Regions from separate parts of the Homo sapiens genome. Here region 1 is linked to region 2. The links come from fine-mapping of genetic effects on gene expression. A gene starts in region 2. The other region holds a variant in brackets. All regions are shown on one strand. Distances are between the middles of the regions. Region 1 overlaps SCUBE2 (signal peptide, CUB domain and EGF like domain containing 2). Region 2 holds the start of TMEM9B-AS1 (TMEM9B antisense RNA 1).

Region 1 (15,856 bases), 59 kb before region 2:
TCACTCTTTATATCAATAGGCTGTAATCAGCTGGGTAAAGGGGTACTTCTGGGTCTAATTACCAAATTGGTCCCAGGGCAGAGAACTCTCTCTCCTGCATTGCAGGGGATGCCTAGGCAGTGTGTAGGCCTAAGCCTGAGAACTACCCAGGCCTTCCCATACTTTGGAAGCAGTTGACACTTGACTTCTTGGTTTCCATCTTTGCACTGTGCTGTGTAGCCCTGTGTGTAAACAGCAGGCACTCATGTGCCATTGACTCAGGGTCAGAAGCACCACAGCATTGACTGTGTGCTCTCTGACTGAGGTGGGAACTGCGGTCAGCACTGGGTAACAGGTTGGACTGAAGTTGGTCTCATTTGGAGAGTGGGGAGCAAGGGTCTGCCTGGAGGCCTTGCTCACGTAAGGCTATTGGTCCTTCCAGGTCTGTGTCAACCTGGTGAATATTCTGCAGATGGCTTTGCACCTTGCCAGCTCTGTGCCCTGGGCACGTTCCAGCCTGAAGCTGGTCGAACTTCCTGCTTCCCCTGTGGAGGAGGCCTTGCCACCAAACATCAGGGAGCTACTTCCTTTCAGGACTGTGAAACCAGAGGTGAGTACTTGGCAGCTTGCCTTTTTCTAGGACTGGATTTCCCTTCTAAGTATCATGGGAGTCTCGTGAGGCTCCAGTCAAGCCCAGCCTGATGCAGTGCCCCAGTGGCTGGGGGTTCAGGTCCCAGCTCCACTCGCCCCAGCAGGATGTGCAGGGGGCACTGGAACTCACTGGACAAGCTGTCCTCCAGCCACCTTAGCCCCTTTGGACAGGCTGACAAGGGATGATCAGGCACTGATGAGCCAGTTGGTACACAGGTTCCCCTGGTTCCTTCCTCTAGCCCTCCTCCATCTCAGTGCCCTGACCTAGAGCTTCCCCCCAATACCCCTTCTCCAGAACCCCACTCCAGCTGCCTTTTCCCAGGGAGCCCAACTCTAAACCCAACCTCAGTTCTGCAACTGCCTGCCCCCTATACTCACAGACGTGCTCTGCATGAAGACTGGAGTTGTGATCATTGATGCCTGACTCTGCATGAACCATAAACTCTTTGGAGATACACACATATCTTGTTCCTCTATATTTCTCTATTTCATGAGCCCCATCCACACTGCCTATTTAGGGAATTAAGTGTTGATTAGCCCCAGATTGGTAGGAAAGCCCTACTTCATTTGCACATAAACATTTCTTTCACAAACTTTAAAATCTTTGTGCTGCATTTGATTAAAAATAATCTTTCTTTTTTTCATTCTTTTCACCCTCCCTTGACCCACAGTTCAATGTTCACCTGGACATTTCTACAACACCACCACTCACCGATGTATTCGTTGCCCAGTGGGAACATACCAGCCTGAATTTGGAAAAAATAATTGTGTTTCTTGCCCAGGAAATACTACGACTGACTTTGATGGCTCCACAAACATAACCCAGTGTAAAAGTAGGTCCCTCTCTAAGGCTTTTCATAGTTCTGGCTAAGAAGATAGGTGTCTGGGTCCACCTCAGAGCAGGGGGCACGGGGCAGAGGTCCCAGGTTCACTCAGAACCATGTAGATGTTATGAGCCCAGCTCACAGCCATGCAGACCAGCATGGAGAGAGAGCAGGGCCTGACTGTGCAGAGCGACTCATCTTTATTGATCCTGGCTACTTCCTCAGGCACACTTACAAGCTGTACTTGCCTTAATTTCCTCCCTGGGGCATAATTTTAGTCCAGCCTTGATCAGCATGCATTGCTTGAGGACCTGTTACGTGCCCAGCATTCTGCTGGGACTTGGTTGATATTAGGCAGAATGAGTCGGCATCGCTGAACCTGCAAGGAGCTCAGGCAGTGAGGCTGCAGAGGAAGGAGCGATTGACTCTGTCTCGAGAGATGAGGAAAGGCTTCTGGAGGGTGTGAGAAGGTTTTGATGGAGAGGGTGGGGAAAGAGTAGGAGAAAGAGCCTTATGTTTGAGAGAGCAGCTGGGGGAAGCACAGATCGAGGCAAGCAAAGGCCTTTTGGGAGGAGACCCCTGGACCTCAGGCTAGAATGTGCCGAAGGGAGTCTCAGGCAGACCAGGAGGCAAAGCCTCGGATGGATGCTGAGGAGACCGGTTTGTGTTTTATAGGAAGGGGGAAGCAAATCATTTAAGGACTTGCTGTCTAGGCTTTTTTTTTAAAGCCACTATTTATAACCAAAATTACAACAAAAACTCTGTAGTAAAGGCCAAAAGTAAATCCCAGCTAATCTTTAAGATAGCAGTCAGAGGAGCAAGGAGGCCCCCCCTAAACTGGAGGAGCTTGGGACTGAGGGGGGCAGTACATCATTAGAACTTTATGATTGAAAGATCATCTGGTTTTCTCTCTATTGCAAGGAAGTCCTTTTAACAACATCTTTATAAGTAGCCTTCCATCTAGTCTCTTCTTGAATACCTGCTGTGACAGGAAGCTTGCTACCTCATGATATCCTAGCTTGTTGGTGGATTGGACTTTAGAAAGCTCACAGTGTTAGAACAAGATGAATGTTCCCTTGTATTCCACCACCTGGCCCTTGGTTGGCCCCATGGGAGCCTTATGGCACAGTTCCTAGGGCAGCCCTTCAGGACTGAAGGCAATTCTCCGCCCCATGGCTCCCCCTTCCTCCTCTTTTCTTCCAAGAAGAAAAGCCTATTTATTTTTTTTCTAGTAATAATAAATCCCAGTTGTAACTAGAGAGGGAAAAAGTAATCCCTTCAACATCTTCTCTTGCACAGATTTACCTGACAGTATTAAATAATGAGCTCCTTGAGAGCAAAGACTGTGTCTTTCTCATTTCTGAGCTCTCAGAGCTTTGGGTGACACTTCTGGGATGAATGAAGATGCAGCTGGGTGCTGTGGGTGAAGGAGGGGTCTGTGCAAGCATGTGCACATGTGTGCAGCCTCTGTCTTTGGTGCCAGACGTAGGTATCCAGCATGCCCTGTACCTACTGATAGCTAATTAGAATTTTCTTCCTTCCTTAAAAATAAAATGTGGGTTGGGTGCAGTGGCTCATGCCTGTAGTCCTAGCACTTTGGGAGGACAAGGCCGGGATAGCTTGAGCCTGAGTTCCAGACCAGCCTGGGCAGCATAGACCTTGTCTCCACAAAAAAAAATGAGGAAAAAAAATTAGCCAGGCCTGATGGCACTTGCATATGGTCCCAGCTTCTTGGGAGGCTTGAGCCCAGGAGGTGAAGGGCGCAGTGAGCCATGATCGCACCACTGCACTCCAGCCTGGGCAACAGAGAGAGACCTCATCTCAAAATAATAATAATTTTTTTAAAAGATGAATAAAAAATAAAATGTGGTCTTAACCAGAGAGAAAAGTGAAAAATATATGTCTGTCTTCATCAAAGTTCTCTGAAAAAGGGTCAGATAGTCTCTGCAGAGCAATGAGCTCTGTTCCCCCTATTTTGAGAGACCTAGAAGTTCTGTCTCATGGGTTCTTCTGGCACTTGGACTTGGTAAACAAAATACTGAAAGCTAAATTTATCCTTTTGTTCACAATTACCTGCCCTGACCGTGAACACTTTCGGGCTAATGAGAAAACAGTGCCTCAGGAACTCAGAGGGGTAGACTCCTTGTGGGGAGCTAATGGTTTGGCTCCCACAGGGGGCCCTCTGGGAAGGACAGACTCATTCCCAGATGGTGTCATTTTCATGCCCCATTCCTGGGTGGCAACAGGGGTGCTGCGGGGCTCGGCAAGCTAGCGGTGGTCAGGACAGAGATGACAGTGTCGTGCCATAACTCGGGGCATCTCCTTTTTCAGACAGAAGATGTGGAGGGGAGCTGGGAGATTTCACTGGGTACATTGAATCCCCAAACTACCCAGGCAATTACCCAGCCAACACCGAGTGTACGTGGACCATCAACCCACCCCCCAAGCGCCGCATCCTGATCGTGGTCCCTGAGATCTTCCTGCCCATAGAGGACGACTGTGGGGACTATCTGGTGATGCGGAAAACCTGTGCGTCTCACTCCCTCCCTCCCTTTCTCAGGCCAGCTGGGAAGCCTGATGACCTGCTCCTCAGGCTTTCAATGTGAGGAGGCAGGCCTAGAACGTCACCTCCATATTAGAGCAGAGGTGAACATGAGTTTATAGAGTTGGTGAGAAACAAAATTTAAATGAAAGCCACACACTGAAGCGTCTTGCTGGGCCCCAGAGGTAGTGATCCTGCAGGTCAGTCTTCCCCTCTGTGCTCACTGGGGCGTTTTGGACCCTCTTCCACAAGGACCCAGAGAGCCAGTGAGGATCATGCAGTGTTGGCCCCAGACAAGGCCTCATACTGAGTTGCAACTGATGGCTTGGAGACTGACCGAGCCTGGCCAGGTGGGGACCTGTCCTCCTATCCTGATTCATGGTCCAGTGTCCATAAAGGAAGACTGCTGTCAACACAGCTTATGGGCAGTGTAATGAGGGGCTCTCTGCAGCCAGACTGCCTGGATCTCTGTCCCAGTTCCACCTCTTACTAGTTCTATGATCTCGGGCACACATTCTGAATCTTTCTGCACTTGTCTTCTCATCTGTTAAAATGGGGCTAGTAACAGTTGCTACCTTATAAGGTTATAAGGGCTAAAGGAGTTCATAGATGTGAAACACTTAGAATAGGCCAGGCACAGTGGCTCACACCTGTAATCCCAGGCTGAGGGAGGAGGCTGAACCAGGATTTTGTGACCAGGCTCGGTGAGACCCTGTCTCTATACATTTTTTTTTTTTTAATTAGCTGGGCATGATGGTGCATGCCTGTGGTTCCGGCTACTCGGGAGGCTGAGATGGGTGAATCGCTTAAGCCTGGGAGGTGGAGGATGCAGTGAGCCGTGATCATGCCACTGCACTCCAGCCTGGTAGACAGAGCCAGACCTTGTCTCAAAAAACAAACAAACAAACAAACAAACAAACAAACAAAGAATGATGATGACACATGGAGCCACTATATAAACGTTTGCTCTTCTTATTAGTGGTTAAAATGTCTGAAGTCAAGTATAGGTTTAAATCCTTGTTTTACCACATACTGGCTATATGACCCTGGGCAAGTATTTAATCTCTCTATTAAAAAGGTAACGGTTGCACCAACTTTCTGTGGTTTTCAGAAGATTAAATGAGACAAAGTCCATAAATTGCCTAGCATGCTGCCTGATCTTAGGCAGCAAATGGTGGTGATGACAATTAGATGACAGCAGGTCAGTTCTGGAATGGGAGGCCCTCACCCAGCTCCTACAGTGAACGGTACAGCCTGGGCTGCTGCTGCTTGCCAAGCCCCAGGTCTTTCAGGTGTAGCCTCCCCTGGGGGTCCACAATTACCAGCTGAATCTACTCTGTTTCCAGGACCTTTGACTTATGATGGCTCAGCTGGGCCTGAAGAGCTTTTGAGCATAACTTATTGTATGGTTTGAGTGTTTAGAAAGATGAGCATCTACTCTATGCCTGATCAGTGATGAGTCTTGAACCCCACCCTTCTCCAACTTCCCTTGGCAGCTTCATCCAATTCTGTGACAACATATGAAACCTGCCAGACCTACGAACGCCCCATCGCCTTCACCTCCAGGTCAAAGAAGCTGTGGATTCAGTTCAAGTCCAATGAAGGGAACAGCGCTAGAGGGTTCCAGGTCCCATACGTGACATATGATGGTAAGCACAGCCTGCAGCACATGGAAAGAGCGTCTCTGCTTTGAACAGAGCCAACTTCGGAGCCAGCTGGCAAACTGCTGACAAGCACACATGCTCAGAAAGGCAGGCAAGATGAGGGGAAAAGACATTGCTGACTCACAAGTGCCAAATTTTAACAGGCATTTGGGGACACTGACAATAGGAGGAAAAGATGTTTTATAAAATATATTAAAAGTGAGCATAGCTTGGTGAGTAAGAACATGGGCACTGGAGTCAGACTGATTAGCCTGGCTATGATTTCTCTGTGACTGTGTATGCCACCATCTCTAAGCCTCAAGTTCTTAATGTGCGAATGAGGATAATCATTAGACTTATTTAAGAGTTCAGTGAGAGTTCCTAAAGGACGTGAGGCAGTGCCTGGCACATAGCAATTGTTCAGTAAATATTAACTTCTGATGATTGTGGCTTTTATTAGGTAGAATCCTGAGGCAGGGAAGGACCTTAGTTCTGGTCCTGGCTTTTTCACTGACTCACTGTGGGATCTTGGGCAAGTCAGATGACTTCTGTTTTAATTTTCTTCATGTTAGATGAAGAGGTGGCCCATCTGAGCCCTGGGGCTCTACCTAGCTCTGAGACTTGGTTGGAAAACATTGACTAGGAGCATAAAATGAACTGGATCTTTGTCCTGGAGGACTACACAGTCCTGTAGGAGAGGAGTCATTTGTTTCTTCCTGAGCTTATTTGTTCACCTAGCCAACAAATATTTAATGAGCATCTACTATGTCAGGCATTGGCCTAAGTGCTGGAAACAACATGGTTAGTGACAGAAACACAAAATATATATATTGTTATAGCTGCTATAACAGCCCAAAGCCCTATGTGAGCATGGAAGCAGCAGCAGCAGTTAATTTTACATGAGCTTTTAGAAGGAATAGAGCAAAGTCTTGAGAGATGTGGGTCTTGAAATAACATATACATTTTGAGCATAAATGGGGGAGAAGGACATTCAGAAAGAGGGAAGGACATAAGTCAAAGGATGAAGTACCCCGGTGTACGTGTGGACTGACGAATGGTCTTATTTGGTCAGTGGGTTGGGTGTGTGGGGCTTGGCAGTGAGAGAGGAGACTAGAAGGGAATGGGGTTCAGCTGTGAAGAGCCTTCAGGGCCAAGCTCTGGAGGATAGACTTAATCTTAGAGGAAGCCACTGAAGGATTTTAGGATGACAAGTGCCAAAATTGTTTGGGAAGACAATATTCTATGGCTTTCCTAAAAAGTAACAAAAGCACGGATCATCATCTTTGTCCTACAGATGCCTGAAATAATGTCAAACAAACACCCAAGACAAGGAGTTTTAGTATCTCTTGGGGTGGACCCAAATGCCTCCCACATGGCTCTGCTGAGAGAGACAGAGAGCCTCATCTACCCAAAAGCAACCAACTGGCAACCTCTCCTATCTGGAATCAGGAAGAAAGCAAAAAGACACTGAGACTTCAAAATAAATATGGCTGTTCTCAACTCTGCCTTTGTGACACATGAAAATGTCTTGATTTTTTTTAAAATGAAAAAGAGTTGTAGCTCCAACTGGGGAAAATTACGCATAATGCAGTGTATGCCCACGAGAGTGAGTCTTGCATGTGTCACAGTAGAGAATAGTTGGAAACTGCTATTTTCCCCACAGAGAAGCTCCCAAGGCCTTCACTCAGAGTTTTTTTTTTTTCAAACATATATTTCCAAAAAGTTTGATATCTTCTTTTCAAACCCAGAAGGATAGAAATCACATTTAGAAGGTGCACATGAGGCTGCTACAGACGGGCCCTCTGAGCGCTGGACAACGGTGAGAACTGTAGCTGGGGCTAACACACATTGAGCATTGCTGACTGCCAGGTACATGCTGAAGTGACTTTTACATGGTGCTTTCCTCACAATCACTCCATAAAGTAGACTTGATTATTTCCTGATTTTATAGATGAGGCCATTCAGGCTTAGAGATTTAAGGAACTGACCTAAGGTCCCAGCATGGCAAGGTTGCAAAGCAAGGTTTGAACCAGGACTGTGGGACTCCAGAGCCTGGATTCTTACCTGTAACTTTCCTGCGTTTCTAATGAGTTGGAGCAAGTAAGGAAACACAGTAGTTCTTAAAAGCAGAAGAAATATTTTTTTTAAACGATAGCAGTCGGGAAGCATTTGGTGGAGTGGCAAACAGCTGTCTAGTTTTCTATTACACCAGAACGCAGCACAGCAACCGACATTCTTAATGGTAAGTCCCATCAACAAAAAGAGGAGAGATACTGCCGCAGAGGAATTCAAGATGAAAAGAAAATGTATTCTCATATTTTATATTCACTAAAATAAAAGAAAGACACCACACTAATGGAGTACCAATGCTATTGTAAACATATCGAATTAGTAATTGTGACTATTATACCATTACTTTCCATTTGCCATCCCTTAACTGAGAGAAACTTTTCAAGAGTTCCTCTCACACAATTTCAATGATGTTCTCATAATGTGTTTGGCTTTGTCGCACATGATATGCATACAAAGAGGCATTTTTTCTGTGTCTGGAATTTGGAAAAGATTGTGCTTTGCATATGCTTAATTTGAATGATGCCTATAGGAAGTAAGCTAGACTTCAAAGGGGGAAGATTGGCATTTGGAGAAGTACAGCATGCACTGCATTTAATGTGTATATCAGGACAAAAAATATTAATGAGAGAACACACACAGTTTTCTTCCTCCCCGACCAGCCAAATTCTCCACCCTCCAGCCCCATTCAAATAAAGGAGAGAAGAGTCTTTCTTGGTGGATAAGAAGCTTGATTGTTTTACATAATACAAG[A/G]ATAGAGAAAAAAGCGGGAGGTGGGGAGGTGAGAGGGAAAGGAGAGCCTGATGAGCTCAACAGGAAGTGAGTATAGACAGAGAAGAGAAGACCAAGGACTAAGCCCTGGGACCCTCCTTTGGTAATAGGTCAGAGAGAAGAAGAAAAGCAAAGAAGCCTCAGAGAAGTAACCGGTAAGGTAGGAGGAAAACCAAAGAGCATGGTGTCCTGGAAGCTCAGTGAAGAACTGGATCAAGGAGGAGGAGTGACCAGCCAGGTCAAAAGCTACTGATGCATCAAGGAGGATGAAGACCAAGAACTGGCCGTTGGGATTTAACAACATGAAGGTCATTGCTGGTCTCACCAAGCAGTTTTGGAGGAGTGATGGGGGCCAAAGCTGATTGGACTGGGTTTAAGAGAGAAAGAAAGGAAAAGAATTAGAGACAGTGGGTGCTGACAATTTTTTTAAGGATTTTTGCTGCAAAAGGGAGCAGGTAAGTGAGATGGAAGCTGGAGGGAGAAATGAGGTCAAGGGAGGGATTTTTAAAGTCAGAGACATACAGCATTTTTGCATGCTGGTGGGAGAGACGAATAGAGAGAAAAATGTATCATGTAGGAAAGAAAGAGCAGAATTACTAGAACAATGCTTTTGATTTGGGGAGAGAAGATGGACCTGGCATGCTAAGTGGAGGGATGAGCCTGGACTGGATGCACAGAGGCTCGTCTGAGGGAAGAGGGGACGGGGAAGATGGGTGCAGATGCTGGTAGGTGAAGAGAGGTGGTGGTGGGAGTCTGTGGAAGTTTTCTTCTGACTGTCTTCTCAGTAAGCAGAATGGTAAGTGATAGCAGCCACAGAAGGGGCATTTCTCAGAACCTTATCAAAAAGTGAAAGAGTGAGTTTGGAAGCAACTAAATCATAAGAATGCAAAACATGTTCTTTATTCCAACAGAGGACTACCAGGAACTCATTGAAGACATAGTTCGAGATGGCAGGCTCTATGCATCTGAGAACCATCAGGAAATACTTAAGGTGAGTGCCTGGCTCAGGTGGACATGGCAGTTATCCACAGAGCTTCCCGAGTACTGTTGGAGAAGGCTTCTCCTCCTGCTCCTTGTTGCCACCTTTCAGACACGGAGCCTGTCCTGGGCCAAGGTCAGTTTTATACCTTCACCAGACTTAATTTTTAAAAAAATCAGGTTGCTGTCTTTAGTGTTGTCAAGTGAAGTTGTATTTTTCAATTTGGAAACTTGTGGAGGGGCAGGGAGAAATTTGCTTATAAATCCAAACCAACAGCAAATAATGTTTTTCTATTAATTCCAAATAGTTGAGGATCCTTGGCTCTTTATGTATACTTCAAGCCTAAAATTCACCAAAGTTTAAATACTTATAAATAATTAGCAATAAACACTTGTGGTATCACTAATCCTACAAATACTCCCAAATCCCAGTGTTGCATTCATCTGGTTGGGAAAAAGAAAACAGGATTTTACATATTAAAGTTTTATTTATAAAAGTAATTCATACTTCTTAAAACTAATTAGGAAAAATAAAAACTGGAAAGAAGATAAAAATCAGAGGAAACAATTTTTGCAAGTGTTTTTCAGCTAAGCAAGCTACGGCCTAATACTGGGTCATTATAGTTCCATGGGCAAAATGTCAGCATATTTAAATATTTTGGCCCAGTAACAAAAATTCTGTTCTTTTTAGGATAAGAAACTTATCAAGGCTCTGTTTGATGTCCTGGCCCATCCCCAGAACTATTTCAAGTACACAGCCCAGGAGTCCCGAGAGATGTTTCCAAGATCGTTCATCCGATTGCTACGTTCCAAAGTGTCCAGGTTTTTGAGACCTTACAAATGACTCAGCCCACGTGCCACTCAATACAAATGTTCTGCTATAGGGTTGGTGGGACAGAGCTGTCTTCCTTCTGCATGTCAGCACAGTCGGGTATTGCTGCCTCCCGTATCAGTGACTCATTAGAGTTCAATTTTTATAGATAATACAGATATTTTGGTAAATTGAACTTGGTTTTTCTTTCCCAGCATCGTGGATGTAGACTGAGAATGGCTTTGAGTGGCATCAGCTTCTCACTGCTGTGGGCGGATGTCTTGGATAGATCACGGGCTGGCTGAGCTGGACTTTGGTCAGCCTAGGTGAGACTCACCTGTCCTTCTGGGGTCTTACTCCTCCTCAAGGAGTCTGTAGTGGAAAGGAGGCCACAGAATAAGCTGCTTATTCTGAAACTTCAGCTTCCTCTAGCCCGGCCCTCTCTAAGGGAGCCCTCTGCACTCGTGTGCAGGCTCTGACCAGGCAGAACAGGCAAGAGGGGAGGGAAGGAGACCCCTGCAGGCTCCCTCCACCCACCTTGAGACCTGGGAGGACTCAGTTTCTCCACAGCCTTCTCCAGCCTGTGTGATACAAGTTTGATCCCAGGAACTTGAGTTCTAAGCAGTGCTCGTGAAAAAAAAAAGCAGAAAGAATTAGAAATAAATAAAAACTAAGCACTTCTGGAGACATAATAATGTACATTTATTGCCAGCCTTCCTCGTTGCAAGCTTCCACCCTGCAGCAAATGCACTATGCTGACTCTCGCACCTTCAGCTGTGCCCTCTGACACTCTGCTGGCCATTGCCTGAGGGACTGGGGAGTTCAGGTGAAATGTAATTTCCTCAGTGGATGAGAATCATCAATTGTCATGAAAAGGCGATTTCACCAACCCTGAGTCGGTATTGCCAAGGGTTCTACTCCCCAAGTGGGCTTCCCATCACAAGGGATCTGAGGTCCAGGTGGGTGTGGTGAGGCCCAGCCTGTCATGTATGCCTTCCTTCCCCAGTCTCAAATGTGAGAGACGGACTCTGCTCCGTGGACATGAGCAGCCCCTTGAAGGGTGGTCTCATTCTCTAACAGTAACAGCACTGCCAGAAACACCCCCTGAATGCCACACGATCATCTCACTTTGGGTCAGGCCAGCAGGGCCTCACGATCATTTCTTGAACTTGAATTTTCAGTGTTATTGAATCTTTAAACATTTAAATCCCCAAGCAAAAATCTCATTACAGTGAATAAAAAGGAATCCAATCAAACAAGCCACCACTTCCCTAATGGATGGACTACCTACAACTATAGTGTTTTGTTATTTCAATAACAATTCTATGCACAGCCAATTCTCCATACCAAAGTACTAAAAAAATGTTTAACAAGCATTTTTGAAGAAAACAAAGAGAACTTCATTATGGTTAAACTTGCTTTTCATCTCAGTGTTGCTTTTTTTAACCTGTTAATAACATTGATTCTTAAAAAGTCCTAATCAAACTTCTTTATTTGGATGGGCCCTAAATATTCATTTTCAGATTTCTCTTCAAAAGTTTGAACATCATCATTAAAAAAAAAATAGCATTAAAACAAGCACTTGGACTTTGTTATACTGGAGCTTGGCCTATATTTCTGAGTCTAACCATAAGATGAAAATTCGAATGTCACATAAACCCGAGTTAGTGACCGCACTGATGTGAAGGTGAGATGAGCTGAGCTGCACCATTCTGTCCAGGCATGTTAGCAACTTTGTGCTCATGACTGTGTGATCCTGTCTTGCTGATTTCACAAGAAGGCTAGGGATGGGAATACTCTGGGGGTTGGAAGGAGGCTGCATAAACCCGGTCACTATGGAGGAGCATCCTCCACGGGGCAGCCCCATGCACCAGAGCTGTGTTGCTGGTACACGCACAAACCACTGACGCACAGGAGGTATAAAGAGGAGCTTCCTCTCTATTCCCTCAACTACCTTAAGAGATGCTGTGATCCTGTTGGGGGCTGGCTATCTGGAGATACTATTTCTACCTGCTACATCAATATTTATCAAACTTCTGCCTGGTACTCTAGGCCCTGGGGATGCGGCGATAAGACAGACAAGGTCCCTGCCCTCATGAAGCTTACATTTTAGAGGGAAGAGACAGACAAAGAACAGATAAATCAACATGAAAAGTAGCAGCTAGTGGTAAGAGCTATGTTGAAAATTAAAATAGGTTACTGTAACAGATGATTGTGTGGCTACTTTAGGATTGGGGATTATAGATGGCCTCTATGCGGAAATTACATTTCAATTGAAAACTAAATGGCAAGAAGAAACCAGTCTTGGGAAAATTAGGGGGAAGAGCTTTCCAGAGAGAGGAAAACCAAGTGCAAAGGCTGTCAGGCAGGAGCAACCATTTGTGTATATTGTAGTCTAGTGAGAAGGCAGGTCGTACAAGATGAGGCTAGAGAACCAGACACGGCCAGATCACATCGGGCTTTGGAATCTATAATGAGGGGTTTGAGTTATTTCTAAATATGTTGCAAACTTTTGAATGGATTTAAGCAGAGGAGTGAGATAATCTGATTTATGTTTTAAAAGGGTAGCTGTGGCTACTGTGTGAATAGGAAGCCAGCACGGAGGCAGAGAGAGTTATTCACAGACTACTGCAACAGAACAAGCAGCCATCCAGTTGGCAGATGAAGGTATTGTCTGGATTAGGGTGTTGTAGTGGAGATGAGAGAAGTAGAAGGATTCTGGATGTGTTTTGGGGGACAGTCAACAGAATTTGCTGATGGGGATTGTATGGAAGTGCTGAGGGAAAGAAGGAAGTCAAAGATGACTCCTAGTTGCCTAAGAAACTGGTAGATGGAGGAGACTAGGAGGAGCAGGTTCGGGATATGCAGCAGTTTTAAAACATGTTTGCAAATTCTTTGAGGTTCCTTCCATGGACAGTTGGGGTCTGTGTCACCTCCCCTTGACTCTGGGCTCTGTGACTGCTTGACCAATATTAACATGGCAGAAGTAATGCTTTACGAGGCCCAGGGCTTAAGACACTAGCAGCTTCCACTTCCTCTCCTTAGGACACTCACACTTGAAACTCAGTCACCACGTCATGAGGAAGCAAGCCATAACAGCCTGTGGAGAGGCCATGTGGAGAGGAACCACAGTCCCTCCACCCACCGGCCAGGCTGAGCTTCCAGGCGACAGCCAGCAAAACTTGCCAGCTGCGTGAGTAAGCCATCTTGGAAAGGGATTCTCCAGCTGCTCCAGCTGACACTTCATGGAGCAGTCCTCATTGAACCACAGAAAAATTAGAGATTTGTGTGCAAAATTAATGATTATTATCTTAAATGATTGATAGGTTTTGAGGTGACTTCTTATGCAGTAATATAACAGTGAAAAGGGGAGATGGTTAAGAGTTCCATTTTGGCCATTCTAGGTTCTAGGTGCCTATCATATGTCCAACTGGAGGGTTCAAATAGGCAAATGGTTATACAAAGCCCCAGGAGAGGTCAGGGCTGGAATATAAGTTTTAATGTCACAGAGTAAAGGCATGAGACTTTACCCCGGTTAAGGTCACCTGGGAAACATGTAAATAAAAGAAGACCGGGGAACTCTTAATTCTGGGATTTCCTGTGTGGGCACAGGAACCAGGACTTTGAGGAGCTGCGTATTAAGTAAACAGGAAGAGGTCAGAGCTGAGCTTCCATCTTCCCTCCAAGAGAGCTAGTTCTATGGGTGAACCCTGAATGGGCATGGATCTGTACAGTCCTTCCTTCTAGCTGTAGATATTGTTCTTTAGCCATTTACTGAAGTGCTGCATCTATGGATTTAACAACATCTCCCTTGAATTTCCAATGCTAATAAAAAAGTGTTTGCCTTTTCACACTAACAGACAATTATCTTCACTTTGGAAAATTGCTTCCTCTGAATCATGCCCTGAGCTGTTAAGTGTGTCGTCTGTAGGCACTCACTGGATTTAGGTTTGCAGGTGATATTAAAATGTCATGTGGCAACCTGGAAAAGGCAGTGGCTGCACAGCACAGTGCAAGGACTTGCTTACCCTCCGGCAGATCTTTGCAGGAAGATGCACCGGAGCTGTTGCCTGCAGCTGACCACCACAGCTGGTGGGCCTATGTGCTGGAAAACCCAGGGGTCATTCCAGGCCCAGCTGTAATCTTCTTAGCCCTGAAGAGATGCCTCTTACTGTCAGCATCTCTGCTTCTTTTCACACAGCAGGATACGTCTTGGAGCCTTACTCAAGTCTGCACTACTTCTAGCCAGCATTTGGGAGGCAAATGGACTAGCTGAGGCTGGAGTAAAGCAGTTCCTCACCAAGTTGAGGGAATCTTGTTGCATACGGCCCTCTAGCTAGGCAAGCCATCAGCTGCCTACAATTTAAGGTCCTGGGAGTGGCCAGTAGGGGCCCATCCACAGAAACTTAGAGGCCTTGGTGAGGCTTCATTTCTGTGACCATCTTCCATTCCAGGGGCTTGTGAGCCCAGCTCAGAGGTGTCCTAATATTTGTAGTGCCCTGCCTCCTTCTCCCTTCAGGCAGTCTCGATCAGCCTGCAGGAGACCACCCTTAGGGACCTGTTAACACAGCAAGGCTGCTCCTGTGATCCATGTCAGTGATATAGCCATGAAGATATCACTACTCAGCAGGGAGCACTTTCCAGAGAACACAGTGGCATCAAAATAGATTTAGAAAATGAAACCACTCTAATATAGGCAGTTTGCCTTAGTTGAATAAAAGCGATACAAATTAAACCTACCTACTGCAAGCAATGACAGTAACTCAGTAGTGCTTGGTTTTCAGAGTATCTCATAAAGGGGATGCAACTACAGACCTTAGTTACTAATAATTTCTTATTATGTTTTTGGTCATTCATTCATTTATGCAACATATATTTATGGAGAGCCTATTAAGTGCTAGACATTGTAGGAGCCAGGGATACTGCAGGGAGCAAAAGAAGCTCCCTGCTCTTGTGGAATTTAGGTTCCAGTCTGGGGAGACAGACAATAAACAAATGAACATATACTGTAAAGTCAAGTAGTGATGAGTGGTATAAATAAGGAAGGGCTAAAGGACAGAGAATGAGGAGGTGGTGGGAGGGAGCTGCTGTCTTAGGATGAGCTCATCATTAGAGTCATGAATCCAGGCCCCTCCTAGAGCACTGGCTCCTCAAACCAAGCCTGGCAGCACTGGCCCTGGCAAGCTCCTTTATCCGCCCAGCAAGACCTTGGCATTTCATGTCAAGCCAAGCTGACCAAAGCTTCAAGCTGTGAACAAGCCATTTGGCAGTTCCTCGAACAGGTGCCACCTAGTGGTTGCAATATGGAGTCGACCTGTGTTTCTGTCTCCCGTCCCACTGCCTCAGACCTTACATGCCCATAATTCAAGACAAGATCTTACCCAAGGGGCCCTGGGGACTAGGGCTGTGATTTGACAACTGATTGGTCGCATGTTGTTTGACACAGCCCTCGGAGTTTATTTTGTTTAGATATTTTCCTTTTTTCTCTGCTTGGCAGAGAAAAACTAGTGACCAAGTCCAAACTCATTGATCTAGGTCATTTCAAACTATCAACAACGCTCTGAATCTCACATACAAACACCGCATA
Region 2 (15,856 bases):
GCTTTGAGTTCCATACCATCAAATAATATCTCTTCTCTTCATTGCTATCATCTACAAAATCTACAAACCCCTGGGTCATCCCCTCTCATTTCTCAGTAAGTTTAGTTCACTGCTCATTTCATTTCCCGCAGCACTACTCCTGATTTAATTCTTAGCAATTTTTAATCTTTCAACACCCTGACTATAGGTTCTTTGAAGAGTAGTTTTCCACTGACCTTGTTCTCTGCTATTCTCATCCATTCACTCTCAGTCATACCTTAGATCTCTCTCGTTATTACCAAAAACTGTAACCCCTCCATAATCTATCTCATTATCTGACCACCACAGTCTGTCTTCCAGACATCTAGTAACTTAACTCCAACACTCCTTTCACTACCACCTTTTCATTGTCCCTAATCTCCAAGTTCCTTCTGTTCCTGTCATAATCAACTTAAATCCCAGGATCACTCATTATAATCATGCAACTTGCATGTACTTTTAACTTAGTCTACCCCTTTTTGTCATTTTCAGTTTGCAAAATCACAACTTTAAAGCCAGCTCTTTGCCTTTGTACCTACTTCTGTGCAGCAACTATGCTGTTTAGTCTTACTTTAAATTCATGTCCATAACCTTCAGGCCTTAATGCTGCCTGATAATCATATTTCCCTACTCTATATACCTTCCCATCCTCCTAGATCAGGAGTCAGCCAACTTTTTCTGTAAAGGGCCAGATAAATATTTTTGGCATAGCAGGTCATAGTCTCTTTTGCAATTATTCAGCTTTGTCACTGTAGCATGAAAGTAGCCAGAGGCAATATGTAAATAAATGAAATTTGAATTGCATTTATTTGTTACATGCTATGATGTAATATCATCTTAAATTTTTTTCCCAACCGTTTAAAAGTAAAAAAGTATCCTTAGCTTGTGGATTGCACCAAAATAGGATTTGACCAAAGGCTATAGTTTGCTGTGCTGTGTCCTAAATTATTTCACACCTTCTCTTTTCTTCCAACACTTCCTCCCCATTTTCACTCTCAGATGATGACCTTGTTTTCTACTTCATTCATCCACCACATCCACCCTCTTACCAGCATCTATATGCATATGTTCAGCTTTCCCTTCTGTTGCTGTGTTACCTAGCGCAAGATCTAAATACTATATAACCCACTGTTTATCTCCCTCACTAGAATCTAGTCCCAGGAGACAGTTTTGTCTGATGTATACCCAGAACCTGGAACAGTGTTTGGCACATAGTAAGTCCTCAACCAATACCTGAATGAATGAGTACTGTCTATCAGACTAGCATGCAGGCAAAAGTTTAGAGAATTTTACTCCAGGAGAACTTATCTCCGTTTTTTTTTTTTTTTTTTTGAGACGGAGTCTTGCTCTGTCGCCCAGGCTGGAGTGCAGTGGCAATCTCCGCCTCCCGAGTTCAAATGATTCTCCTGCCTCAGCCTCCCGAGTAGCTGGGATTACAGGCGCGTGCCACCATGCCTGACTTATTTTTTGTATTCTTAGAAGAGATGAGGTTTCACCATGTTAGCCAGGATGGTCTCAATCTCCCGACCTCATGATCTGCCCGCCTCAGCCTCCCAAAGTGCTGGGATTACAGGCATGAGCCACCGCACTGGGCCGGAACTTAACCTCTCTAAGAGAAAAGACCTACCTGTCCTGACAGTTGGAGATCTCTTTGATTATCCTAAGTTGTACTTTTTCAAATTTCTTTGAAGAAACACCCACAATAAAAAAAAAAAACTCCCATTTTATGGGATCAAACCAGTACATAATATGTATATATGATATGTGTAAGAAACCAAAGTTTCATAAAATAATTCTCTTTCTATGTAGATGTATTCTGAGGTGGTGTTTTCTATTCTGTTCTGTCATTTGGGGGAAATAAAACTGATTATATTGATTTCACAAACTACTAATGGGTTTGCGACCAGAAGTTTGAAAAATACTGCAGTATGTCCTACCAATTACAAGTCCTAAGTATGTACACAGAACTTTTTTTTTTTTTGAGACAGAGTTTTGGTCTGTTGCCTAGGCTGGAGAGCTCACTGCAACCTCTGCCTCCCGGGTTCAAGAGATTCTCAAGCCTCAGCCTCCCAAGTAGCAAGGATTACAGGCGTGCGCCACCAGCCCGGCTAATTTTTGTATTTTTAGTAGAGATGGGGTTTCACCATGTTGGCAAGGCTGGTCTTGAACTCCTGACCTCAAGTGATCTGCCTGCCTTGGCCTTCCAAAGTGCTGGGGTTACAGGTGTGAGCCACCTCACTGGCCAGTGTACACAGAACTTTCTATTGGCTTTCTAGTGCCCCACTCTTACATATGAATGGATGGCCAAGGATCTCTAGACGTTTAAGAAAAGCTTCCAACACAAAACAGAAACAAGCCTTAAAAATTCAACACAGACAATTCAAGAAACAAAAGAAAACATTAGCAATATTCTTAGAGTAATAAGATACTGCATCCACCAAATGGAACAGACTGCTATTTAAAAAGGGGAAGGGGGTGGACAAGAAAGTGCTTCCCTGGAGGACGTTATGCTGAATGGAATAAGCCAGGCACAGACAGACAAAGTCACATGATTCCTAATGTAGAATCTAAAACAAACTCACAGAATCAGAGTAGAATGATGGTTATCAGAGAGTAGGGGGAAGGGGTGGTAGGGGAAACAAGGAGATGTTGGTTAGAGTACGAAGTTTCAGTTAGATAAAGGGAATACATTTTTTGAGATAAAGAGTATAGCATGGTTAATAATAATGTACTGTATATTTCAAAATTGCTGAAGGTAAATGTCAAGTATTCTCACCACAAAGAAGTATTTGTAGTGATGGATATGTTAATTAGCTTGATTTAATCTTTCCACATTGTATACATATAACATCACTTTGTACCCCATAAATATATCCAATTTGTACTTGTCAATTTACAATAAACCTTTAAATTACAAAAATAAAAAATATTTTTAATTAAAAGAGAGGTTGACAAGAAAGTATTCTGGCAAATTTAAAACATAACAGAAATTTTAAAATTCAAAAGAAAAGCTGGAAGGTGGAAATCTTTCAGAAAAACAAAAAGAAGTGGAAAACAGGGTAGAAAGGATAAAATTATTTCAGGACAAAAGCTGTGCAGTAGGCTTAGAGAAAAACTAGTCCACAGTGAAGGAGGATGATGGGCTCCTAGAGAGTTGTCTCCAATTTAAAAAATAAACTGATTGATAGACTACTTGATGTGTTTCAATGTTTTGAAAGGACAGTTTGGAATAAATTGATTATAGACACTTGAATGCTAGGTACTTAAGAAAGTTGCATGGAGAAAGAGGCAATAGTTAACTTCAATCAAAATAAAGGAAATATAATCATATTATGCTAACTGGATCAATTACATACCTTTATAATAGTATAATGAATAGTACTCTACCTATATAGGGTGATATAGATAAACTGAAGGATGGAAGATGGAGAAATACATGTGTGTATTACCAGTCTTCAGAGTATAAACACATATCTTATTTCCTATAGAAAAAGTAAAATAATGGCCCAAACTGAAAAATTAAGAATTAGTAGTATAAGCATGCTATTTAGAAATACGGAGATAAATACCAGAAGAGGTAGCTGGGTGAATAGAGATTATATCTAGGGAGTAGAAACTGAGAGTGTGGAGGGCTGGGACAGGGTCTGCTGTTTTTCATTATAAACCTAGTGATACTATTTGATTTTTAATGTAATGATAAAAATAAAACAATATGATTAATGTGGTATTTCATTTATTTGAAAATCTTAGGAGGGACTGTATTCATTAAGTTTTTTTGTTTTGTTTGTTTGTTTGTTTTGAGACGGAGTTTCGCTATTGTTGCCCAGGCTGGAGTGCAATGGTGCAATCTCAGCTCACTGCAACCTCCGCCTCCTGGGTTCAAGGATTCTTATGCCTCAGCCTCCTGAGTAGCTGGGATTACAGGCGCCTGCCACCACGCCTGGCTAACTTTTTCTATTTTTAGTAGAGATGGGGTTTCACCATGTTGGTCAGGCTGTTCTTGAACTCCTGACCTCAAGTGATCTGACTGCCTCAGCCTCCCAAAGTGCTGGGATTATAGGCATGAGCCACCATGCGCCCAGGCTGGAGTGCAGTGGCATGATCTCGACTCACTACAACCTCCGCCTCCTGAGTTCAAGCGATTCTGGTGCCTCAGCTTCCGGAGTAGCTGGGATTACAGGTGCCTGCCACCACGCCCTGCTAATTTTTGTATTTTTAGTAGAGATGGGGTTTCACCATGTTGGCCAGGCTGTTCTTGAACTCCTGACCTCAAGTGATCTACCTGCCTTGGCCTCCCAAAGTGCTGGGATTACAGGCGTGAGCCACTGCACCTGACCTGTTTTCATTAAATATTCTAAGGTACTGGGAAATCAACAATATTGATTTAGCACCTCTAAAAGGAACTAAAAATTCTCCCCACTTTGGTACTCACCTGCACTGTGGTGTTTTATTTCAGGGAACCCAGTAACATCAGCAGTGGCACCAGCAGCTCTAGAAACATATTCTGTCCCCATAAATTGTTGTTATCATGGTGAACACCAGCAAGTGATGCACTTAGGTGGCTTTACAGGCAGCAGTAGGCTTTACAGTGGGCTGAAAAATCCCACTAAACAGGGCTGAGTAGGAGGGAGCATCCTAGTGGGTGCACACAATAAAGAAGAGGGCTCATAAGACGTTTCCAGAGTATGCTCAGAAATAACTGGAAGGATGTGTGTGTCCCCAGCCATAACCACTGGAGCCACAATACAAGGAAATCACCAATGTTGTGCATAACTCCATTTGTTCTCCTGGACTGGTGTTGCCTAGGCAAGTGCTGGGTAGATCAGAATGGATGGGGTGGAAGAATTAAGGGGCATCCAGAGAGCTATTTGATCACTGGAGGGGAAAGGGCATGGGGGGATGCAGACAGGTGGCAAAACCTGGGTCCAAGATATATTTGTCCCAGATATATAAATTGTCACTTTTCTCCCTCCCCTTCTGACTTGCACACTTACAAAGAAGGTTCCTCTTCCTTTTCTAACCATCCCCCACCAGGGAATTTTTCAGGCCTTACAAAGAAGGGAGAGGACCCAGGCCAGTTGGGAGGGTACACGTGGACCTACATCACTCTTTTTGAGGAAGTGAGTAGGGAAACCTAGTTATAAGGAAGCAAGGAAAATAGAGGGAGAGTGAGTACTAAGGCCAGCGCCGTCTATAAACAGAACAATTCCCGTGTGACCTGAAGGTCTAGGAAGACCCGAGGTGAGAAATCTTCACTCCCCTGCCTACTATGGTGCGCCGGATCCCGCCATTTGCACATCTTTGGGCATCTCAGCATCCCCTCTCATGGTCAGAAAGAAATCAAATGAGGATTCAAGTAGGTGCCTGATACTTTTCTTTTAGACTAACCAGAGGAGCCTCTCCCATTCCCCTTTTCCCTGGTCCCCACAAACATCATATTGTTTTAATCTGTCTCCAGGTATAACAATAATAAGACAAAGTCCTTACCCTCAGAGAGCTCACAATATTTTGGTGGAGGTTTGGGTATAAAGGCAAATGTGAAAACATAATTTTACTATAATGGGGTAAAGTTAAGAAAGAGATCTATGCAAACATAGAAAGGAGTGCACTTAAGTCAGTGAAGGTTTTCTGGCTTAGAAGAACCCTGACCTAAAGGAAAAGTAAGAGTTACCTAGATAAGAGCAGGGCAGAACAAGAGAAACTGATCCCTCCACTTCTATTGAGTCACCTGAAATTATATTCATTTTTTGGCAGACATATACCTCCCCCAAACATTCGGCTCTAGTTGTGCCAGTTCTTCCTTGTCAGCCCTCTTACCTTGGCCTGAGGCTTCATTGTCTCCAGTCAGGCGACTATCTCATAGTCACACTCCACTCACGGCAGCCACATTCTGTATTCCAGAACAGCACTTCCTGACAGCACTATAACATTTTCTAGCAGCCACATTTAAGAGGTCAAAAAACAAGTGAAATATTTTACTAATATATTTTATTTAACCCAACATATCTAAAATATTTAAACCATATTTTTAAATTACTGAAATATTTTACATTTTAAAAATATTGTCTTTGAAATTAAGTGTATATTTTATACAGCACATTTCAATTCAGTCTAGCCACATTTCAAATGCTCAATTGCCACATGTAGCTAGATAGTGGTTATACTATGGAGCTCTAAAATTCCGCCCAGACTGAGTGTGCTTGGTGTTTCTCCATTAAACAGATGAGGCCCATCAGTCTGAGGCACAACTATGTATTTTCTCTAAGTCTCTGTACCCCCAAGGCCTTGAAAACAATTCGGAAGGAAGAGAAGGCCTATGAGGTTTCAGCTACAGCAGGCACTCCCTTTAGATGCCAAGCCTAGAAAACCCTAAACTGATGCCTAACTTGCAGCTGAATCACCTTTCAGCAATCAGATTCAGTGCCTCACCAACACATTTGATCCAGGGAGTCTCCAGTTTGTCCTTTGTCCAGTAGAAGACCCACTACAAAGCCTTGATAATTCATCAAAGTGACAGCACCTTCACTGGGCAGTCTGGTGAGAGGACATCTAGCCCTGCCACCCTGGTTCCTGTTGGGAACAGTATCAGATACGTTGTGTTAGATTCACATGAATCTAAGAATCACATGGGCGAAAAATATTGAGAGCATTCTGTTAAAACATTTCCACAAATTGGGAAAAGACCATCTTTAAAAATCTGTTGGGGCCGGGCGCGGTGGCTCACGCCTATAATCCCAGCAATTTGGGAGGCCGAGGCGGGCGGATCACAAGGTCAGGAGATCGAGACCATCCTGGCTAACACAGTGAGACCCTGTCTGTACTAAAAATACAAAAAAAAAAAAAGAAAAAGAAAAAGAAAAAAAAAATTAGCCGGGCGGCGTGGTGGCGGGCGCCTGTAGTCCCACCTACTAGGGAGGCTGAGGCAGGAGAATGGCGTCAACCCGGGAGGCGGAGGTTGCAGTGAGCCGAGATCGCGCCACTGCACTCCAGCCCGGGGGACAGAACGAGACTCCGTCTCAAAAAAAACAAAAAAATCTGTTTACAGAGGTAAAAACACGGGTATTACATGGAGCATAATTTGAAATCCATTCCCTCATATTCAGCCAAGAACTACAGGCCCAGAGAAGGGAAGTGATTTGCCAAAGGTCATTCAACAAATCCCTAGGGGCTGTGATGATCCGTGTCCTTGCCATTACCTCCCTTGTCTCCACTAACAAAAATATTTCAATGGGAGAATGTGCCGATCTAAGGCACTCCTAAAGTACTTGCTGAGAATGACAGCCCTGGGGAGACAGGTCGGCAGCCCTGAACAGGCACTGCCTTACCCGGGCGTAGTGCCCCAATTCGCCACCTCTTGGAGTCCTAGGCGGAGGATACTACTGGGGCAGTTGTTTCGCCAATTCCACATCTCCCGGAGCCTGGCCTGGCCCAGCCCAGCCCCGTCGCTGTGACCCACTTCCTAGCTGCAGGCTGGACCAAGGGGAGGCACATGGGGAGCTCCACAGGGAGGCCACGCCCACGAGGGCAGCTCACAGAATTAGAAAGCCGACGGGGTGCTGTGGTCAGGAGGCGCGTGGGCGGCAGGTTAGTACTTAAGGTGCAGAGACCACCCCCAACCCTTTGACTGGCGGTGGGCATCCCGGAAAGGCATGGCTCGGCCAATTCCAGCCCCGTTTCCACGCTCAGCACCCGCCCTGCCTGTGCGCGAACGGCTCCGGCCCGCACGGGTCGCCAGAGGCGACTGTGTGACACTCGGAGTTTGCTGGGGTCTCCGTGGGCGGGAGGACTTTCCAGCGCAATGGCGACTCCCTAAGCCCCGCAGCTTCTGCGCCCGGGAAAGATATCCAAGAGATGCAAAGCTCTACTGGGCCCAGGCTGCCACCCCAGAGGCCCCCTTCCGTCCCGGGGCCGGGGCTAGGCCAAGGCGGGCACCAGGACTGCCCAGCCTCCCGGCCCTTCGCACTGGTAACCGGTTCCGGGGCGGATGCTTTTTGCATCTGACCCGGCGCGCCCGGTGACGCCTTCGCGTCCAGACGGAAGTGCGGGCGGAGGATCCCCAGCCGGGTCCCAAGCCTGTGCCTGAGCCTGAGCCTGAGCCTGAGCCCGAGCCGGGAGCCGGTCGCGGGGGCTCCGGGCTGTGGGACCGCTGGGCCCCCAGCGATGGCGACCCTGTGGGGAGGCCTTCTTCGGCTTGGCTCCTTGCTCAGCCTGTCGTGCCTGGCGCTTTCCGTGCTGCTGCTGGCGCAGCTGTCAGACGCCGCCAAGGTGAGTCCCGCCCAGCCTCGCTCCTGACGGAAGCTCCTCCCCTACCACCGGCCTTGCGGAAACTGGGTCTGCCAACCTGCTCCTTGGCCCATTCCTGACAGCCATACGCCTGGCCTCACAGCTCCGGCAGACCCCCGCCGCCACCAGCCCCGCCCCTCCCGACTGCCCGGCGGCACTCTCGCCCTCAGCCCCGACAGCCTGGCAGGCAGCGCCCCACGGTCGTCCCCAGCCCCGACAGTGCCCACAGTCCGGACAGCAGCCCCCCACCGCCTTAACATTTCCCTTCCCAGCCCCGGCTGCACGCATCTTACACTTGACAACCTTTTCACCTCCGAGAGCCTTTAACTTTCCACCCTAAGCTCTTGACAGCCCACCTGCGCCCTCCGCCAGCCTCACAGGCCCCGCATGCCCCAAGCCAGAATGATAGGAAGCCCCCATCTGACAGAGCCTTCCCTGTCAAGGGCCGACTCAGCTCAGCTCACCCCTGAACACTTCCCTTCCTGTGGTGGGAACTTGCCCCTCCTGGCCTACTTCCCTCCCAATAGGGCCTACGGAGCATCTCTCACCTGCTTCATATTCTCACCTAACTCCCTCCACGAGTCCCTTGGTGCCTTTCTTGCTTTCTCTCTTCCTGATAATTTAGTGGGTAAGGGAAGAACCAAACTGCAAGAGAGGTGAGGTTGTGGCCTCCCTGGTTCGATTTCTTGACCTTCTAGTTCCCTCATACTGTTCTCTGGTGCCCCAGCTCTCCAGACCTGCCCTAGCTCCATGCATACCTGTGCTTCCTCTTTGATGAGCTAGCTCATCATTGGGGGAGAACAGAAGGGATTCACATTAGTATGATGGGAAAACAGAATGACATTGCGTTTTTAAAAATAAGAGCTTTAATTTATAATATCTTTAAATGTAGGAGTGGGGAAAGGTTACAGGCAGGCAAATGTTTTTGATTCAGAGATTCTTTTTGAAACCATCTCTACCTCCTACCAGAAACAGGGACAGCAGCACGTCTCCTGACTTTGAAAACATTGCTGGCACCCTCTGCATATCTTGCCTCATAACTTTATGTATTGTGATCATGTATTTATTTTTCAGTCTCCTTTACTAGGGTGTGTCCTGGTTATGGGCAGAAACCATGTCTTATGCTTATCTGAATCCACCTTATTGAGCACAAGATCTAACACAGAGCAAATGCTCACTAAGTGGTTGCTGAATACGTTTGTGAATTGTCAATAGCTCTGCCAGACATATCACTGTATATAGGAGGAGTGGGCAAGGTCCTCTGGGGAATGATAAGCCACTTCCTTCTCAAACAGATTCCCCTTTGCTGAGGAAGCATCTCTTCTTTTCTCTATCCAGATACTTAGTCACCTGTTCCTCCACCTCTTGAAACTTGTTTTGTTGGTAGTTGTTCTGTCTGTCAACCAGGAATTAGAAGCAAAGTTTCCTGGGAAGAGTATACTAAACTGATCTCAGAGTCAGGCTACTTCCTGTGTGTACTTCCTTTCTAGTTGTAGGTGGGTGCCTCTAACATTTCATCCCTTCTACGGGACTCTGGCCCAACCCGTTTTATCAATGTCAGTGCCTTCTACCAGAGGGTGAAAGGATGATAGGTAGAATTGTGACCTTTTTTGTGAATAATTTTTAGTTTCTTTCCCATCCTTTAGTAATGAATATTCTTATTTACAGGCACAACTATCTGCTTACCATGTGTCTTTCTAGTGGCAGATAGATGGTAATAACATTAACATAATTTGATTGTCATGTGACCCATAAATATGGTTAATAAGTCTTAGATCATGTATTAGGTATTATTTCAAAATAACTACATGTAATATATAATGATTCATTGGCATTACCATAAAGGACTGTGGCTTTTAAAAACTGTGTCTGTTAAAGTTTTAAATGAATGATTTTAGAATACTTGGTATTCTAAAGAGGATGCTTGGCAAAATGTATATGGTACAGTTTTTAAAAATATTGATGATAAACTGTCAACGCACTATACTGTTTCCATTTTGGTTACAGAATTTCGAGGATGTCAGATGTAAATGTATCTGCCCTCCCTATAAAGAAAATTCTGGGCATATTTATAATAAGAACATATCTCAGAAAGATTGGTAAGTATCTGGATTACTGAATTACCTGTCACATTTGTTTCTGTGGTTGTCAGTGTTATCCCAGAATGTTCATCAAATGCATAGTTTTCTTTTTAAGTATTTCATTTGAAGCAAAAATGTGAAATTCTACTTCCATTTGAAAAAGTGAGAGTGAGGCCCTACGTGCATGATGCCTGCAGGCCTAAAGGTATACAGCCAAAACACTAAGACCCATGTAGGCAGAGTTTCATGGGAGCATATGACTGGGTTTGTGGCACCTAAACTACCCATAGCTATCTTGCTGTACTCCCTCAAGTTTTGGTGAGGGACCTTTCTCCCTCTTGCTTTTCAGTGGAAGGTTAGCAAGCCTCGTTTGTCTGGGTTATAATTTTTACAACTTGTAGGTTTTGATGATGTATTGCCAAGTATGGGAAGCTATGTTTAAAAGTGTCAGAAGGCTCAAGAAGAAGTGGAAATGAGCTATGTAGTCAGAGTTTCCCATTTGGTGTAAATGAAGAAGTTACAGTTGTGCCAAGATATTGACCTGTTCAGTCCTTGGGCAGTCAGGCAGGCCTGTGATGACTGGGGGATCCTGACTGACTAGCCACCAGCAGCCTTCTCTGCTTATCCCAGCAGACCTGACAAATAGCTTTTTCTACGTGTGCCATGAAGCAGTTGGGATGCAGTTGTATTACAGCAGGATGAATGTGTTCCTTCCCATAGAATTGTGATGTTTTATGGTTTGTAACCACGGTGGAAGATGGATGGGATAGGAATTTAGGAAAAATAGTTCCAAATGGTAGGAGCTTTCACGTGTATCTGATTTCATAGCTAAATAGCCATCAAAGAGTTAGAAAGCAAGATTAAATTCATTCAGTTAACAGTATTCCAACCTGACTTTAAAAAAGAAAAGGCAGCCTTTGAGTATGTTTAGTTTCTCTGATGCCACTGTCTGTTCTTCCCTGATACGCATTTAGGTTCAGTCTCATATTTGTTAAGTGTGTTCTTGAGAACTTCTTGTGAACCTCTATGTTCCACTGTAAGTGGTGTCATATTAACCAAGCGATTTGGCCATATTCTTAAAGGTTTTATATCAGGAAGTTACTTTATATGATACAAGAATGTTCAGGCCGGGCACGGTGGCTCACGCCTGTAATCCCAGCACTCTGGGAGGCTGAGGCAGGCGGATCACCTGAGGTCAGGAGTTCGAGACCAGCCTGGCCAACAGAGTGAAACCCTGTCTCTACTAAAAATACAAAAAAAATTAGCCGGGCTTGGTGGCGGGTGCCTGTAATCCCAGCCACTCGGGAGGCCGAGGCAGGAGAATCGCTTGAACCCGGGAGGCAGAGCTTGCAGTGAGCCGAGATCGCGCCACTGCACTCCAGCCTGGGTGACAGAGCGAGACCCTAGCTCAAAAAAAAAAAAAAAGAATGTTCAAATAAATCTTTATGTTACTTCTATAAATTTTCCAAATTTATTCAGTGCTTACAGTTTATTCTGTTATCAGTAATGAAATGCAATGCCTGTCTTTTGAGTAGCAAATGAACTCACTATTCAAGTGGTTAGCACTAATCTTTTCACTAACTTTTCATTATTTCAGACTCAGACAGGACCATATGTCATTAACCCCTGGTTATTAGTAAAAATAGCTTTGGCTTTGAAAACAGTTGAGGCAGGACATGGTGGCTCACACCTGTAATCCCAGCACTTTGGGAGGCCAAGGCAGGTGGATCACTTGAGGCCAGGAGTTCAAGAACAGCCTGGCCAACATGGTGAAACCCCGACTCTACTAAAAATATAAAAATTAGCTGGGCATGGTGGCACACGCCTGTAATTCCAGCTACTCGGAAGGCTAAGGTAGAGAATCGCTTGAGCCGCAGAGGTAGAGGTTGCAGTGAGCTGAGATTGTGCCACTGCCCTCTAACCTGGGTGACAGAGCATGACTCTGTCTCAAAAAAAAAAAAAAAAAAAAAACAGAAACAAAGAAAATAAACAGTTGAGAATAAGGCTTGCTTGGGGTTTTTCTTCCCTCTCTCCCACTCTCCCTTGTTTCTTTTCTGCAGCTTAGCATTTTTCTAGGGATAAGTTCCCAGCTGGCACTGAAAAATTTTAACTGACTTTACGGGGCAGGCAAGTTATGATTCACCAGAATTATGGCTTTACGAGGCCTCCAGTATCTGTGAGGGCCTAGATATAGTTTTACCTTTTGTTTTCTGGGCCTTTCATTTTGTCCAGTTTTTATCTTTAAGTCTTCATTGACTTATGCTGGCTGACTTAAAACTTAAGAGTAGTTGGAGTGCTCTAGTTTGTGTTTGGGGTGATTTAAAGCTAATGATGTGTTACTTTTGGCACTAGGGGGAGGTGTTGCCTAGTTCCTTAAGTGGTTAACCTCTGACTAGGTCTAGCTCTGTTTGTAATGACTGGTCAGCCAAAATCAACCTTCCTGCTTTCTCTCCAGCTGGGCACAACTTTTGCACAGCACTCAAGTATCTTTTTGTTATTAAAATATATCCTTCAAAAGAAATACTCAATACTTACTTAGCACTTAAAATTCCCAAGTCATTCTTAGGTATTGTTGCCAAAGCTTCTGAAGCTGAAGTAGGAAACTAAATAGATCAGTTTCATTTTCCCGAGGTTCAGAGGTAAAGAACTGACGTAGGAAGCAGGAGTCCTGGATTCTGGTCCTTTCTGTTTTTTTTATTGCTAGAGTGCAGTGGCACGATCATAGCTCATTGCAGCCTTGATCTCCTAGGCTCCAGTGGTCCTCCAGCCTCAGCCTCCTGTGTAGCTGGGACTACAGGTGTGTACCATCAACCTGGCTAATTTTTATTTTTGTCGACACTGGGTCTCACTATGTTGCCCAGGCTGGTCTCAAGTTGGCTTCAAGTGATCCTCACATGTTGGCCTCCTAAAACTCTGGGATTATAGGGATAAGCCACCATGCGTGGCCTGATCCTTTTTCAAATATGATTTTACTCTGTGACCTTCTCTAAGCCTGAGGCTAGATGAGCTCTCTGATCCTCAGATAGATAACACCTGTTATGGGATATAGTTCCCTCTGCCCATTTTGTGCCTGCATCCAGTTGGGTACATGCCTGGTCTTCTGTATATTTGGAACAGATATCACACACTTTTATGGTGAGAGTTGTGGGGCCTTACCCGTATTTGAAATACCATCAGTGGAAATTTAATTTTTCATTACTACCTTTGTTAAAATTAAATTACCTGTTAAGAATAACCTGGGCCGGGTGCGGTGACTCATGCCTGTAATGCCAGCACTTTGGGAGGCCGAGGCAGGCACATCACCTGAAGTTGGGAGTTTGAGACCAGCCTGACCAACATGGAAAAACCCCATCTCTACTAAAAATACAAAATTAGTCGGGCATGGTAGCGCATGCCTGTAATCCCAGCTACTAGGGAGGCTGAGGCAGGAGAATCACTTGAACCCTGGAGGAAGAGGTTGTGTTGAGGAAGATCACACCATTGCACTCCAGCCTGGGCAACAAGAGTGAAACTCTGTCTCAAAAAAAAAAAAAAAGAATAACCTAACAACTTCTATCATATACCGTTTTGGTTATTTTTTCTAATGCCACAGTTTAGAGGGAACAGAACATGAAAATATGAATTTCTAGAAATTAACTTTTTTTTTTTTGAGACAGAGTCTCACTCTGTTGCCCAGGCTGAGTGCAATGGCGCGATCTCGGCTCACTACAACCTCTGCCTCCCAGGTTCAAGTGATTCTCCTGCCTCAGCCTCCTGAGTAGCTGGGATTACAGGCATGTGCCACCATGCCCAGATAATTTTTTGTATTTTTAGTAGAAATGGGGTTTCACCCTGTTGGTCAGGCAGGTCTTGAACTCCTGACCTCATGATCCAACCGCCTCGGCCTCCCAAAGTGCTGAGATTACAGGCGTGAGCCACCACACCCGGCCTTTTTTTTTTTTTTTTTTTTTGAGACGGAGTTTCGCTGTCATTGCCCAGGCTGGAGTGCAATGGCACGATCTCGGCTGACCGTAACCTCCACCTCCCAGGTTCAAGCGATTCTCAAGTCTCAGCCTCCTGAGTAGCTGGGATTACAGGCATGCACCACCATGCCTGGCTAATTTTTTTGTATTTTTAGTAGAGACGGGGTTTCTCCATGTTGGTCAGGCTGGTCTCGAACTCCCAACCTCAGGTGATCTTCCCGCCTCGGCCTCCCAAAGTGCTGGGATTACAGGCATGAGCCACTGCGCCCGGCTGAAATTAATTTTTAATTGACACAATAACTGTACGTATTTATGGGATACATAGTGATGTTTCAATTCATATAAGATATAGTGATTTGATCAGAATATTTAGCATCTCAGACATTTATCATTTCTTTGTGTTGAAAATATTCAAAATCCTCCTTCTAGCTATTTGAAACTATAATATATATTATTGTTGACTATAGTCATCCTACAGGGATATAGAACACTAGAACTTATTCCTCCCACCAAGCTGTAACTTTGTTTCCAAAAAGTACATTTTGGTGGGGAAAGAGAAGGAATCACTCTATAGAGTATTGGGTGTCCCCAAGAGAATGGGTAAGATAAGATAGGATGGTGTAGTAGAGTGCTTGAGGCAGCCAGGAATGCCTAACGAAGAGATGCCAAAAGGAAAGAAAATTGTCCAACAGCTGGCAGGAGGACAGGAAAGCTTTCCCTAATTTTGCTGAAGGTGATCAGAGTCATAGACTCTTAATAGTTGAGGAGAATAATAATTTAGTTATTGCTTAGAATTGACAGATTTCTAGGAAAAATCTGATAGCACTGTGTTTACACAAACCATAAATAATTAGCCTTGAAAATGGGGTTGGGGAAATAAGTAACATTCAACAAAAACACTCATCCCTTTGTTAGTTTTTATTTAGTTCTTTGGAATAACCAGTTTTTGTTTTAAAATATTTTAGTTATTCTATTTCTCCTTGCTTTTTCAGATTTGCTCATTAAGAAAAGTGATTGTTTCTTCCTGTGTGTGGCTTTGAGGGTTCAATTTTCAGAGTTTCAGAATTTACCACGCTGTTAAACGTGGTTAGTCATTCATACACCACACTGGCAGTTAAGAATGATGTTGGCTGGGCACGGTGGCTCACACCTGTAATCCCGGCACTTTAGGAGGCCAAGATAGGAGGATCACTTGAGGCCAGGTATTCAAGACAAGTTAGGTCAACAAACCAAGACCTGATCTCTACAACAAATCTAAAAATTAGCCAGGCATGGTGGCAGGCTCCTGTAATCATAGCTGCTCTGGAGGTTGAGGCAGGAGGATCACTTGAGCCCAGGAGTCTGAGGCTGCAGTGAGCTATGATGGCACCACTCCACTACAGCCCATGTGACAGAGCAAGACCTTGTCTCTTAAAAAACAACAACAAAAAAGAATGATGTTAATTCACAAAAGAGATAATCTTATATTTGAACAGTGCCCCATATCACTTTAAACCATTTTAAGTAGTTTTC

What was found. PIP is the estimated chance that this variant, and not a neighbour inherited with it, causes the effect.
Region 1: its variant is fine-mapped to the expression of TMEM9B-AS1 in esophagus muscle (GTEx, PIP 0.96).

The regions. Positions count from the first base shown.
Region 1 is chr11:9,015,491-9,031,346 of GRCh38, reverse strand. It overlaps SCUBE2 (signal peptide, CUB domain and EGF like domain containing 2), which reads left to right. Exons shown (of 23, transcript NM_001367977.2): 18 at 422-589; 19 at 1,302-1,463; 20 at 3,786-3,983; 21 at 5,493-5,645; 22 at 9,392-9,471; 23 at 10,150-11,871. The coding sequence ends at 10,302. All of the region lies in intron 1 of NRIP3-DT (NRIP3 divergent transcript), which reads right to left. Among named protein-coding and RNA genes, the nearest start is that of NRIP3-DT, 19 kb to the right of the region's middle. The variant A/G (reference allele first, on the strand shown) is at 8,463.
Region 2 is chr11:8,956,636-8,972,491 of GRCh38, reverse strand. TMEM9B-AS1 (TMEM9B antisense RNA 1) reads right to left here and starts at 7,817. Exons shown (of 5, transcript NR_073431.1): 1 at 7,344-7,817; 2 at 6,448-6,588; 3 at 5,836-5,951; 4 at 4,451-4,653. TMEM9B (TMEM9 domain family member B) reads left to right here and starts at 8,050. Exons shown (of 5, transcript NM_020644.3): 1 at 8,050-8,283; 2 at 10,309-10,400. The coding sequence starts at 8,179. RefSeq lists silencers at 7,857-8,356, 8,397-8,586.